Linked DNA regions of Homo sapiens. The protein of the gene in region 3 interacts with the protein of the main gene of each other region in a pairwise test. Each region holds a gene or a part of one and is shown on either strand. Other genes may lie near its edges.

Region 1 (3,719 bases), on a different chromosome or scaffold from region 3:
TATTTCACTAGCTCTTGTTTCTTTTTCTGTACTTTTGCATCTTTAAATCAAAAACATTGCTCATATATCCAAGAATACAAATTTAAGAAGATAGTTTTTCTCTGTTAACTGATGGAAATTGTATGACTGTTTTATATAAACATTTAAAATGAAATGTCCTTGAAAAATATCTTCATGAAGACCTCTAAATTATTCTAGCTAGCAGTGATTTTTCTGTCTTTGTATTCCTCTGGGGTTTATAGTGTACAATTACATGCTTAATTATATACTATTCCATATTCTTCAGTTGTCACATGATAATACTGTTTTCTCAGCTACTCTTTAAGCTCCTAAAGCCAGAATATTGGATGGTTACTCAATAAAAGTACTTTTTGTTAATTTTTAAAACTGTACTTCTGTATTATAAATTTCAAAATGAATTTGCAGTCAGTATTTAATTAGTACTTCAGAGGATGAATGTAATAGAGGCATCTTGTTGGGAAAAAAAAGAAATTTTAAGTAAATCACTGTAGATGGGTTGCCTTGCTGTTATCTCCCTCTCCGCAGACCTGTGTTCCTGCCTTTCATTTCTAGCCCTATTTGGTAAAAGATAAATGTGGCTGGAAGTATCTTATTTTTATCATTCCTAAGATAAACCAGAGTTGCTGATGAGAATAGCCAACAGTCACCTAGCTCCTTGGGACACACAGCAGTACAGTCCCAATTATTAATGTATGATATTTCCATACAAACACCCCTCTGGCCGAAAGAGCAAAGATGGTTAGGTAGTCAGAGGTCTCCTGGACAAAAAGTGTAAAACTAATTTTGACCCGTTCTGTGGAGCTTGCTTCCTCTTTTTCTCCCCAGGTCCCTCTCCTCCCATGTAATTGGCGATGGGGAAAGGGGTGAGGACATATACTAGGACCAGACAAGGAATTTGAAAGAGGGGTGCTTACAGATATGGTGGTTGTCAGAGCTTTTTCCTTCCCTTCCCAGTCTTGAGGACACACCAGCCTTAAGCAGAACGCTCATAAATCATTTTGCCATCATTGTGATTGTTTTTTATTATTGATGCTGGGTGATGAGTATATCAGGGTTCATCATACTTATCATTTCTACTTTAAGTGTTTCGAAATATCATTAATTTAAACTATTTTAATCATGATATATAGAATCCTTTCTGTCAATGATAATGACCTTAGCAAGTTATAAAGTTTTCTCAGACTTTTTAAAGATTAGTAAATTTTTTATTTCCATAAGGCTGCACTGTTCCCTAGACTATTTTGACTTCAGAGCCCATTCATTGCCAAGCTGTGATAATTTATTTTTCCTTAAATAAAATGGATTTTAGCAAGGGTTTTGGCAAAATACTGTGTTTTAATGATTAAGGTTACTATAACTGCCTCTCAAAATTTAATGTGAACTTGTATTTCTTATATCATTTTTTGTGTTTTCCAAAGGTTACAAAAGTGGATGAAACCAGAGGGATCGCACATGTTTATTTATTTACCCCTAAGAACTTCCCTGACCCTCATCGCAGTATTAATCGCCAGATTACAAATGCAGACTTGTGGAAGCATCAGAAGGATGTGTTTTTGAGTGCCATATCCAGTGGAGCTGACTCTCCCAACAGCAAAAATGGCAACATGCCCATGTCGGGCAACACTGGAGAGAATTTCAGAAAGAACCTCACAGATGTCATCAAAAAGTCCATGGTGGACCATACGAGCGCTTTCTCCACAGAGGAACTGCCACCTCCTGTCCACTTATCAAAGCCAGGGGAACACATGGATGTGTATGTGCCTGTGGCCTGTCACCCAGGCTACTTCGTCATCCAGCCTTGGCAGGAGATACATAAGTTGGAAGTTCTGATGGAAGAGATGATTCTATATTACAGCGTGTCTGAAGAGCGCCACATAGCAGTGGAGAAAGACCAAGTGTATGCTGCAAAAGTGGAAAATAAGTAGGTCCTTGGACAAAGCATTTTATTCTACTCCTAAGAAAAATGTGTAAAATGATGCCAGAGTCTTAATCTTGGCGGGGGGACTTCGAACTGTACTAATGGGAATTTTGAATGTGAAACAAACACAGTAATTTTTCCGATTTTCTAGTATTTAAAATGATGTCACTTATCAAAAAATCTATTGGCCATATTCCTGTTAAAACCCAATTATATAACTAAAATGAATGTTTAAATATTTTTTCTATTTTTCTATTAGAAAAATATTTTTATTCAGAAAATAACCAGATTTTTTCATTTAATGACTTTTTATTTTAAAAATAAAAATATTATGGAAAAATTTTAAAATATAAAAAAAGCATAAGAAATTAAAATCAACCACCCACACATAACACTTGTTAAACTACTTATGTATTTCCTCTAATTTTATATGTGCATATTTATATAGTTGGTATATTATTAGTATGTATAATTTTGTACCTGCTTTTTTCACCTAACATTATGTCATGAACATTTTTCCATGTGATAAAATTTCTTCAGGAACCTTTATAATGGCTATTTTAATCATGATATACAGAATTCCTTTTTCCCAATGAAATCATAATTTACTTACCATTCTATTTTGTTATGTAAGGTTTTCTCTCCTGTATTTTTCACTATTATAAATAATAGTGAATGTAAATCTTTGCATTTCTGATTATTTATTTACGGGATAGATTCCTAGAAGAAAAGTCACTTGTTGGAAGATGGCAAGACTCTTGCTTTATGTTGTCAGCTGCATCCTGGCATCTGTGCCATCTTTCATAAGGAGCAACAATGCTTATTTCACTACTCTTTGGCCTTGGGGCTGTGAGAACATACTTTCTCTTACATTTCTTTAGCGCTTCAGTGTTTTTTCTAATATTTTCACATTTGGGTCCACACCCTCCTCCCCAAAGCCCTGCAGGATGTGCTGGTTTCATCCAAGTGAAGCCCAGACACCCCACTGTCCACTTTCCACTCAGGCCATGAAGCCCTGGGAAATGGCACAATGCCCATCCTGTTCCTTTGCCAGCTTGCTTAGGAGAAATGAACAAGCTTATTTATCAATGCTGAACACAAAGAACAGTCACCCCTCCCCAACACACACACACACACACACACACCCCAAAACTCAGTTTAAAAGGTCAAACTGCTTATTTTTTATATGAAATGTTTTAATTCTTTAAGATAGCAAACATAGGCATGTATAAAGTTTTGTCATTTTCATGGGAGAAAAAAACTAATTTTTAACTCTCAGTGAAGCGTATAAAAGCTCTCATTTCGAAAAACATACAATTTGTATGTCATAAGCTTTTCTTCTCTAAAAAACCATTTCTACTGTTGTGTTATTTATAACCACAAGCATAAATAGGTTTAATTCAGCTTGTGTAGGTTTGCCTCAATCAGAGCTCTTTGTAAGATAATTCAATCACAGTTAAAAACCAAACTAATGTTCTGGGGGGCAGATTGATGATTAAAGGTGAGGAGATCCTCCTTGGAGTAAAGGGGTTGGGTAGGAAGGAGAACACATCAACTGGAGAGCTCCAATATGAGCCCTTGCACTCCCCACTCTGCCCTCCATGGCTTTGAACCATTCTGCCCCAGGACTCTTGGACTTTAGTTAATTTGTCCCAGATAATCAAGGGATGTTTTGTATATAAAAACAGATAATCTGATTTTTTTAAAACTTCATGAACTGAATCAGTATAAAATGTTTAGAACTTCTGTCTTCCTTAAGACTCAGGACTATTTACTAAAC
Region 2 (3,500 bases), on a different chromosome or scaffold from region 3:
TGGCCCACAGACCCTGAGGTGTTTCCTTGGTGGCTCTTCACAGAATGTTTGCTGCCCCTAGTATAGAGGGTAGAGCCTCCTGGGTAGGGCTGTCCTGTGGCTCACTGTTTTTTGTAGGCCAGGTACCCCCTTGACACCTGACATCTGCCTCAGTCCCCTCACAGTTCAGCCTTCAAACTTGAGTCCTCTGTGTCATATGCCTAGACCCCCCACTTCTGAGGAGAAAGCCTCAGCTTTCTCCTTTCACGATCCCTTCTCTCTCGGTGAATGGCCAGTGGGTTGGGCTCTCTTGCCCCCACCCATGTTGGCATTGCTTGCCTTTTAGGTACCCATGGGACGGCTCCTGTTTCTCCCATTCTGAGAGCATCTGCTTATAATTCTAGGGCCTGTGTTTGGAAGCAAAGATAACTTCCACGGCTTAGCCATCTTCCTGGACACCTACCCCAATGATGAGACCACTGAGGTAGGCCCCTGCTCTATCCTGCTGAGCAGGAAAGGAAGGACTGGGCAGTCGGCTAGAGGAGGGGGCCCTGGGACTTCCATGGTCCCAGCACAAGAGGAGCCTCCAGGGATTGGGGTGGTGGGTGCCCCTGCTCGCCCCACAGGCTGGGCTGCTTGTGGAGTAACCGATGTCTTGGTCCCAGCGCGTGTTCCCGTACATCTCGGTGATGGTGAACAATGGCTCCCTGTCCTACGACCACAGCAAGGATGGGCGCTGGACCGAGCTGGCGGGCTGCACGGCTGACTTCCGCAACCGCGATCACGACACCTTCCTGGCTGTGCGCTACTCCCGGGGCCGTCTGACGGTGAGCAGGCTAGGCGGTGGGGGTGGCAGCTGGTGGCCCTGTGCTGGTCCCACAGAGGCTCAGGAGGGCAGGCTGCTGTCCTGCGAGGTGCTTAGCGTGCTGGGCCCTGCAGGTGATGACCGACCTGGAGGACAAGAACGAGTGGAAGAACTGCATTGACATCACGGGAGTGCGCCTGCCCACCGGCTACTACTTCGGGGCCTCCGCCGGCACCGGCGACCTGTCTGGTGAGTGGGCCGGGCCAGGCGTTGGTTCCCAGCCCAGCTCACCCTGAGGGACTGGGAGCTTTCCATGCAGTTGATTGCCTGCCTTCATGTGGTTTCTGAGCTCACCTGGCTGTGTTCCTCCTCCTCCTTTCTTCTGTAAATGGCCTGTCCGGGCCTCAGTTCCTGTGGTTTCTGGGCTCACCTGGCTGTGTTCCTCCTCCTCCTTTCTTCTGTAAATGGCCTGTCCGGGCCTCAGTTCCTGTGGTTTCTGAGCTCACCTGGCTGTGTTCCTCCTCCTCCTTTCTTCTGTAAATGGCCTGTCCGGGCCTCAGGCCTTGAACGGTCCCTTGGCAACCTTCCCCATCAACAGGAGGCAGCGGGTCAGTTAGATTTGGGCAATGTAGATTCCCAGATTTATCTCCAGCCCAGACCGCTCTGGACCTGCTCAGCCCTTGTGCCCACAGCTGAGGCCACATCTTGCCCATCGGGATGTCAGTGGCACCTGTGCCCCTCTATTTGCTTGCTGTCTTTCCGGACCCTTCTTTCTCTCACATGGCACCTCTGGTCCATCAACAGTCCCTGTGGCTTTATTTTCACAGCACGTCTCACCACTTCCCTCCCCTCCCTGACTACCTGGCGGCTTCAGGCCACCAGTGTCTCTCACAGGAGTCTCCCAAGTGGTCCCCTCCTTCACCAGCCCCCAACAGTCTCTCGTGAGCACAGCAGCCGTGTAATCGCCTTCAGTAATCGCCTTCAGCCCGTGTGAGGCCTCCTGCTGCTCTGCGCAGAGCTCTGCAGGGGGCGCCAGGGCCTCTGTGCCAGCCCTGCCACCTCTGGCTCCCTGCTCACTGCTCCCCCTGCCTACTGTGGCTTCCAGCTGCTGCCTGGATGCGCCTGTGCCCTCCTGCCCCGGCTGTTTCACCCTTGTCTCCTAGGGCCTTGCTCAGATGTTACCTCCTCAGTGCGGCCTTCCCTGATGCCCTCGTGGAATGTCGTGCCCCCTCCTGTGTCCCCAGCCCACTCCCCAGCATCTTTGCTGGCTTTATTTTTCTTCATAATATTTACCATCTTTGAGTCTACCGAGTAATTAATTTTATTGTCTCTGGCCCTCCTGCTCAATTGTAAGCTCTATAAATGGCTGTTTGGCCCAGGGCAGGTGCTCAGCGAGCACTGGGGTGCCTCTAACCTGCTCAGGCCTCACTGGTCACCAGGCCGTGGTGGCCCTTGGCTGTGGTTCTCGGTTTCTCTTTGGGGCCCTGAGCAGGTGCCAGGCCCAGGGCCAGCTCCTGACCAGAACTGGCACGTGACACGGGGGACCTGACATGGGCGGTTTATCCTCAGGATGACCCATTCCAGGGCCTGTAGTCTGCCCACTGCCCAGGAGCCTCCTCTCTCAGCATGGAAGTGCTTGGGTCCGCTCAGACCCCAGAACATCCATTGTTTGGGGGTTTTTCAGTCACATACCCAGCAGAGGAGAGAGGTCTGGTAAGCACCCTTCCTGCCAACCAGCTTTCATCATTTCCAGCTCGCGCCTGGCTGGTTTCCCTCCTGCCCCGGGTTGCCTGGAACTTCATCACACTGTTTCAGCCCTTGTCTTTGGAGGGTTCTTGATAGGAGCAGAGCAGCACCAGTGCTGTGGCCGGTGGCAGCTCTCACAGCTGTTGGGAGAGCCCAGCACAGAGTGGAGGAGGCACCATGAGGGGAGCCGTGTCTGACCACTGGTCAGGGGTCATCAGTGCCAGGCACCTTACGGGTGATGTCACCTGATGTATTTTTAGGCAGATGGCCATCTCGTTCCCTTTTTACTCAACCATTGGGAGTTTGAAAACTGAAAGGATTTTTCCTAAGATACGAGCAGGAAGCAGCAGAGCCCAGATGGGAACTGGGGCCTGACTCCAGGGCCGGTCCTTGTCCTGCAGGGCCGCTCGCCGTCTCCAAGGGCTGTGCATGCTCGGCTCTCACACTGTGTGCCTGGCCGAGCTCTTGCTCATTAGGTCCCCCCTTGGCTCCAGAGATTCCTGCTCCCTTCAACAAGGCCTTTCCTCAGATTCCAGTCCCAGGCTGACCAGGACCCACGTGTCGGCTTTGAGCCTCAGCCTCCTCATCTCTACAATTGGGTGATCCATCAGCGTCAAGCCAGGGCTCTTCCCTGTGCATGCCATTGGACAGAGCCTTTCCCCAGTCTCCTCAGGCACAGCTGCTGACCTGCGTTAGGCTCAGGCCCTTAGCTGGTTGCCGAGTTGTTCCCCTGCAGCCTGTATGTGGGTCTCTGTGGCAAGAATGTCTGGTGGCTCCTGCCCTTGGGACCTCAGCCTTCTCAGCCAGTCACACAGCGACTGTTGGTCTTTCCCGGGTCTGTTTTTGAGCACTTATTCTGCAGGCAGGCCATCTTCTGTGTGGTGTAGACCCTTCTCATGTACTTGCCATGGCAACCACACAGATGGAGATCATCACTCCTCTACATGTGCGGAACATGAGCCTCAAAGAG
Region 3 (4,409 bases):
CCTGATCCTGGGAAGTCAAGGCTGCAATCAGCCAGATCACACCACTGCACTCCAGCCTGGGTGACAGAGTGAAATTCTGTCAAAGAAAGAAAAGAAAGAGAAAGAAAAGGAAGAAAGGAAGGAAGGAAGCGTATCTCCATTTTCATCCAAACAGGTATTTTTCTCTGCTACTACGTACCTCCTCAGAGCCCATCCCCCCTACTGGTCTGAGGCTTTTTTTTAAACAACTTTCTGGACATAGCCCCTCTTAAGACTAACAACCTATAGCCAGGCGTGGTGGCTCACGCTTGTAATCCCAGGATTTTGGGAGGCCGAGGCAGGTGGATCACCTGAGGTCGGGAGTACCAGACCAGCCTGACCAATATGGAGAAACCCCATCTCTGCTAAAAACACAAAATTAGGCTGGGCATGGCGGCGCATGCCTGTAATCCCAGCAACTCGGGAGGCTGAGGCAGGAGAACTGCTTGAACCCAGGAGGCGGAAGTTGTGGTGAGCGGAGATTGCGCCATTGTACTCCAGCCTGGGCAACAAGAGCGAAACTCTGTCTCAAAAAAACAAAACAAAACAAAAAGAGTAGCAACCTAGGCCGGGCGCAGTGGCTCACGCCTGTAATCCCAGCACTTTGGGAGGCTGAGGCGGGTGGATCACCTGAGGTCAGGAGTTCGAGACCAGCCTGGCCAACATGGTGAAACCCCGTCTCTACTAAAAATACAAAAATTAGCCGGGCGTGGTGGTGGGCGCCTGTAATCCCAGCTACTCGGAAGGCTGAGGCAGGAGAATTGCTTAAACGCAGGAGGCGGAGGTTGTAGTGAGTGGAGATCGAGCCACTGCACTCCAGCCTGGGCGATAGAGCGAGACTCCGTCTCAAAAAAACAAACAAACAAATAAACAAAAAGACTAGCAACCTCCTCTCCAGCAATGCCAACCCCAGTCCAGGCCCCCATCCGCCCAGGATCTCGATCAAAAAACATTAATCTGTGGCCTTTCTTTGCCATTTCCAACTCTGCCACCTCCATCGAACGACAAGGTCCCCTTCTTCCTTTCCATTCCCGTCAGCTTCATTTCCCTAATCTCCGTACAAATCCCTAGCCTGACTCCCTTTCCTTTCCATCCTCACCAGACGCCCGCATGCCGGACCTCAAAAGCGCAAACGCTAAAAACCGGTTGAGTTGACGCACGGAGAGAAGGGGTGTGTGGGTGGGTGGGTGTGTGTTAGTGTGCGTGCTTGCTTGTGTGTGGAAGAAACCAACAGGGTTCACGCTGGTGCCCATTTCTGGAAATGCCAATCGCGCCCGACTGCGGGAGCCAGGATCAGGTCCCCAGGGCGCCCTTGCAGACAGCACCCTGAGCGAAGGAGCTCAGAAGGCAGTCCGGCTTCACCCAGACCCCCAATCCCACAGAAGCGCCGTCCCCCAGCGGCACAGCACCCCCTCCCCGGCGCGGTGGTAGGGCCCGACGTGACGTCACCCATTGTTTACAAATCAACCCGAGCCGGCAGGATTCCGGCTCCCGCGGCTGCAGGCGCGCGGCTAGAGTGCCTGGCGGGCTCCGGCTTCCGCGTCCGCCCCGGCCCCGGTCCAGACTTAGTCTTCAGCTCCGCGCCCGCTCCGCCGCGGCCCACCGCGCCCGCCGGCAGCCGAGCCCCCAGCGACGCCCGCACAGCTCCGGGTGCCCAGACAGGGGGCCATGCCGTGCCGGAGGGAGGAGGAAGAGGAAGCCGGCGAGGAGGCGGAGGGGGAGGAAGAGGAGGAGGACAGCTTCCTCCTACTGCAGCAGTCAGTGGCGCTGGGCAGCTCGGGCGAGGTGGACCGGCTGGTGGCCCAGATCGGCGAGACGCTGCAGCTGGACGCGGCGCAGCACAGCCCGGCCTCGCCGTGCGGGCCCCCGGGGGCGCCGCTGCGGGCCCCGGGGCCCCTGGCTGCGGCGGTGCCGGCGGACAAGGCCAGGTCCCCGGCGGTGCCGCTGCTGCTGCCGCCCGCGTTGGCGGAGACTGTGGGCCCGGCGCCCCCTGGGGTCCTGCGCTGCGCCCTGGGGGACCGCGGCCGCGTGCGGGGCCGCGCTGCGCCCTACTGCGTGGCCGAGCTCGCCACAGGCCCCAGCGCGCTGTCCCCACTGCCCCCTCAGGCCGACCTTGATGGGCCTCCGGGAGCTGGCAAGCAGGGCATCCCGCAGCCGCTGTCGGGTCCGTGCCGGCGAGGATGGCTCCGGGGCGCCGCCGCCTCCCGCCGCCTGCAGCAGCGACGCGGGTCCCAACCAGAAACCCGCACAGGCGACGACGACCCGCACCGGCTTCTGCAGCAGCTAGTGCTCTCTGGAAACCTCATCAAGGAGGCCGTGCGAAGGCTTCATTCGCGACGGCTGCAGTTACGTGCAAAGCTTCCCCAACGCCCGCTCCTGGGACCTCTGTCGGCCCCGGTGCATGAACCCCCTTCGCCTCGCAGCCCTCGCGCGGCCTGCAGTGACCCTGGCGCCTCCGGGAGGGCGCAGCTCAGAACTGGCGACGGCGTTCTTGTGCCTGGCAGCTAACACGCCCGGGGTGGCCACAGCGCCAGCCTCAGACTGGAGGGCAAGGGGTTCCCTTGAGGGCTGCAGTTCTACTCAGGCTGGTGGAGAACTCTGGCTTTTGGAAGCGAGAGTAAAAAGCTAATGACGAGGAACCGAAAAATCGCGAGTGTTTCGCGGGTAACTGGGGTTGAGGGCCAAAATATTTGGAATGAAGGACTTTGGCCCTATTTAAGGCAGATTTTACAGAGCGCACCTCAAACGTACAAGTCAGTAGGACTCCTTATTTGGCGTGACCCGACCTGGCCGCGGAGCCTGCATTTCCTCGCAGCCTCTCAGTGCCCTCCAGCCCCGCGACCATGTGGCCACAATCCACGCTTCTCCGGATCGCGGTGCGCCGGAACCACGGAGGATGATGCCAGTTACTTGCTTTACCTTTTCAGGGCTGGCTCCTGATCCACTTTGGGGGAGGAGAACATGAGTAGATAATTTCAGGGTGCAGCCCAATCTGCCAGACTTAAAAAAACCATCTTGTGTCTTTGGAGGTGCTGCTTAATACCAAACATGCGGTGCCATGAAGGGACCCTTTGGGGGTTGAATAGGAGTTAACCCCTGCGCTCTCTTTGCAACTGTCTCTCTTCTCAGAGTGGTGGGGGAAGGCTGTACGACACGGGTGGGGAAAGGAGGTGGGGGCGGGGAGTATTGAATGGTGGTGGAAGGGTAGAGAGGCGCGGAGTGAACCCCACGCCCTGTCTAAAGTGTATTTTCAGAGCCGGCCCGCCTCTCCTCGGTTCAAGGTCACTGTTTCCTGGGCACGCACTGGGTTGCGGGACAGAGTAGCCAGGTTCTGCCGGTGCTCGGAGAAGAGCGCAGTGTTTTGCAAGTGCTGGAGTCTCCTGAGGACACGCGCGTCGCCGCCACCGCGGGTGTGGGAAAGCGCGGACGTGCTGGGCGGCTGTGCTTCGGTAGGCGACCACCGCCCCTGGCCGCGCTCCGGGCTTTCACGGAAACTCCCGAGACCGGGCCCTGGGTTCCTCCTCTCCTACTCGGCTCTGCAGTCCTACTCAAGCGGGTGGCTCTGGGATCCTGGGGGCCTGGGTTGGGGGCTAGGGAGACGCCATGTGATGGACACTCCAGGGACACACAGCCTAGCACAGCAGCTTATAATGGGCTCTCCGGGGCCATTTGCAATAACAGCTGCAATTCCCTGGATAGACGAGTTGATTTCCTCCCTCTGCCCCTCCCCCAGCCATGCCAGCTGGCCTTTGTAAGTGCAGGAAACCGAGTAGAAAATGTGACCCTCCAAATGGAGAAGCTGCAGGCTTTGCCATTGTGAACCATGGTGAAGTGCTTGGAACATACTGTTCACTCACTCTAAAGGCGCTGAGACTGTGCTGTTGTTCTCGTTTTTATAGTCAATGGCTTGTTCATCATCCAGATGTGGCTACTGACATATCTACACTTCGCACCGGAGTGTCTGGAATTGTGGCTATCCTGATTATAGGATTTTAACTTAACTGAAATGCCTGCTTTGAATAAATGTGTTGGGTTTTTTGTTTGGTTTTATTTTATACTTGCCATCAGTGAAAAAGATGTACAGAACACATTTCTCTGATCTCCATAAACATGAAAACACTTGAAATCTCTGTCAGCCTGGCTTGTGGATGGTAATTAGAGCGCCTTTGTGTCTGAGCAGCTCACTAGCTAGACAAGGTCTCCGCAGCTGGGTGTGTATTGGAGCTGGCATGAAATTAAATGAAAGTGAGGTCAGGTTTTGGACCAATCCCATTCGTTAAAACCTCAGAGCCTTTTGGATTACTAGTCAGTGATGGAGATGTGTTATAAAGCTGCCTCTATTAGCAAAGGACATCAGATCAGCCAGTCACTGCAAACTGGGAGGCTTATCT

Evidence for each region.
Region 1: the proteins of FRAT1 (region 3) and TDRD7 interact in a two-hybrid assay, tested with the Homo sapiens proteins (one large-scale study listed by BioGRID and IntAct).
Region 2: the proteins of FRAT1 (region 3) and LMAN2 interact in a two-hybrid assay, tested with the Homo sapiens proteins (one large-scale study listed by BioGRID and IntAct).

The regions. Positions count from the first base shown.
Region 1 is NC_000009.12:97,481,410-97,485,128, forward strand, and holds part of TDRD7 (tudor domain-containing protein 7), read left to right. Parts: intron 1-1,439; coding exon 1,440-1,942; intron 1,943-3,719. UniProt on the Homo sapiens protein: Component of specific cytoplasmic RNA granules involved in post-transcriptional regulation of specific genes: probably acts by binding to specific mRNAs and regulating their translation.
Region 2 is NC_000005.10:177,334,669-177,338,168, reverse strand, and holds part of LMAN2 (vesicular integral-membrane protein VIP36 precursor), read left to right. Parts: intron 1-383; coding exon 384-463; intron 464-644; coding exon 645-806; intron 807-918; coding exon 919-1,033; intron 1,034-3,500. UniProt on the Homo sapiens protein: Plays a role as an intracellular lectin in the early secretory pathway. Interacts with N-acetyl-D-galactosamine and high-mannose type glycans and may also bind to O-linked glycans.
Region 3 is NC_000010.11:97,317,768-97,322,176, forward strand, and holds FRAT1 (proto-oncogene FRAT1), read left to right. Parts: upstream 1-1,503; 5' UTR 1,504-1,686; coding exon 1,687-2,526; 3' UTR 2,527-4,148; downstream 4,149-4,409. UniProt on the Homo sapiens protein: Positively regulates the Wnt signaling pathway by stabilizing beta-catenin through the association with GSK-3. May play a role in tumor progression and collaborate with PIM1 and MYC in lymphomagenesis.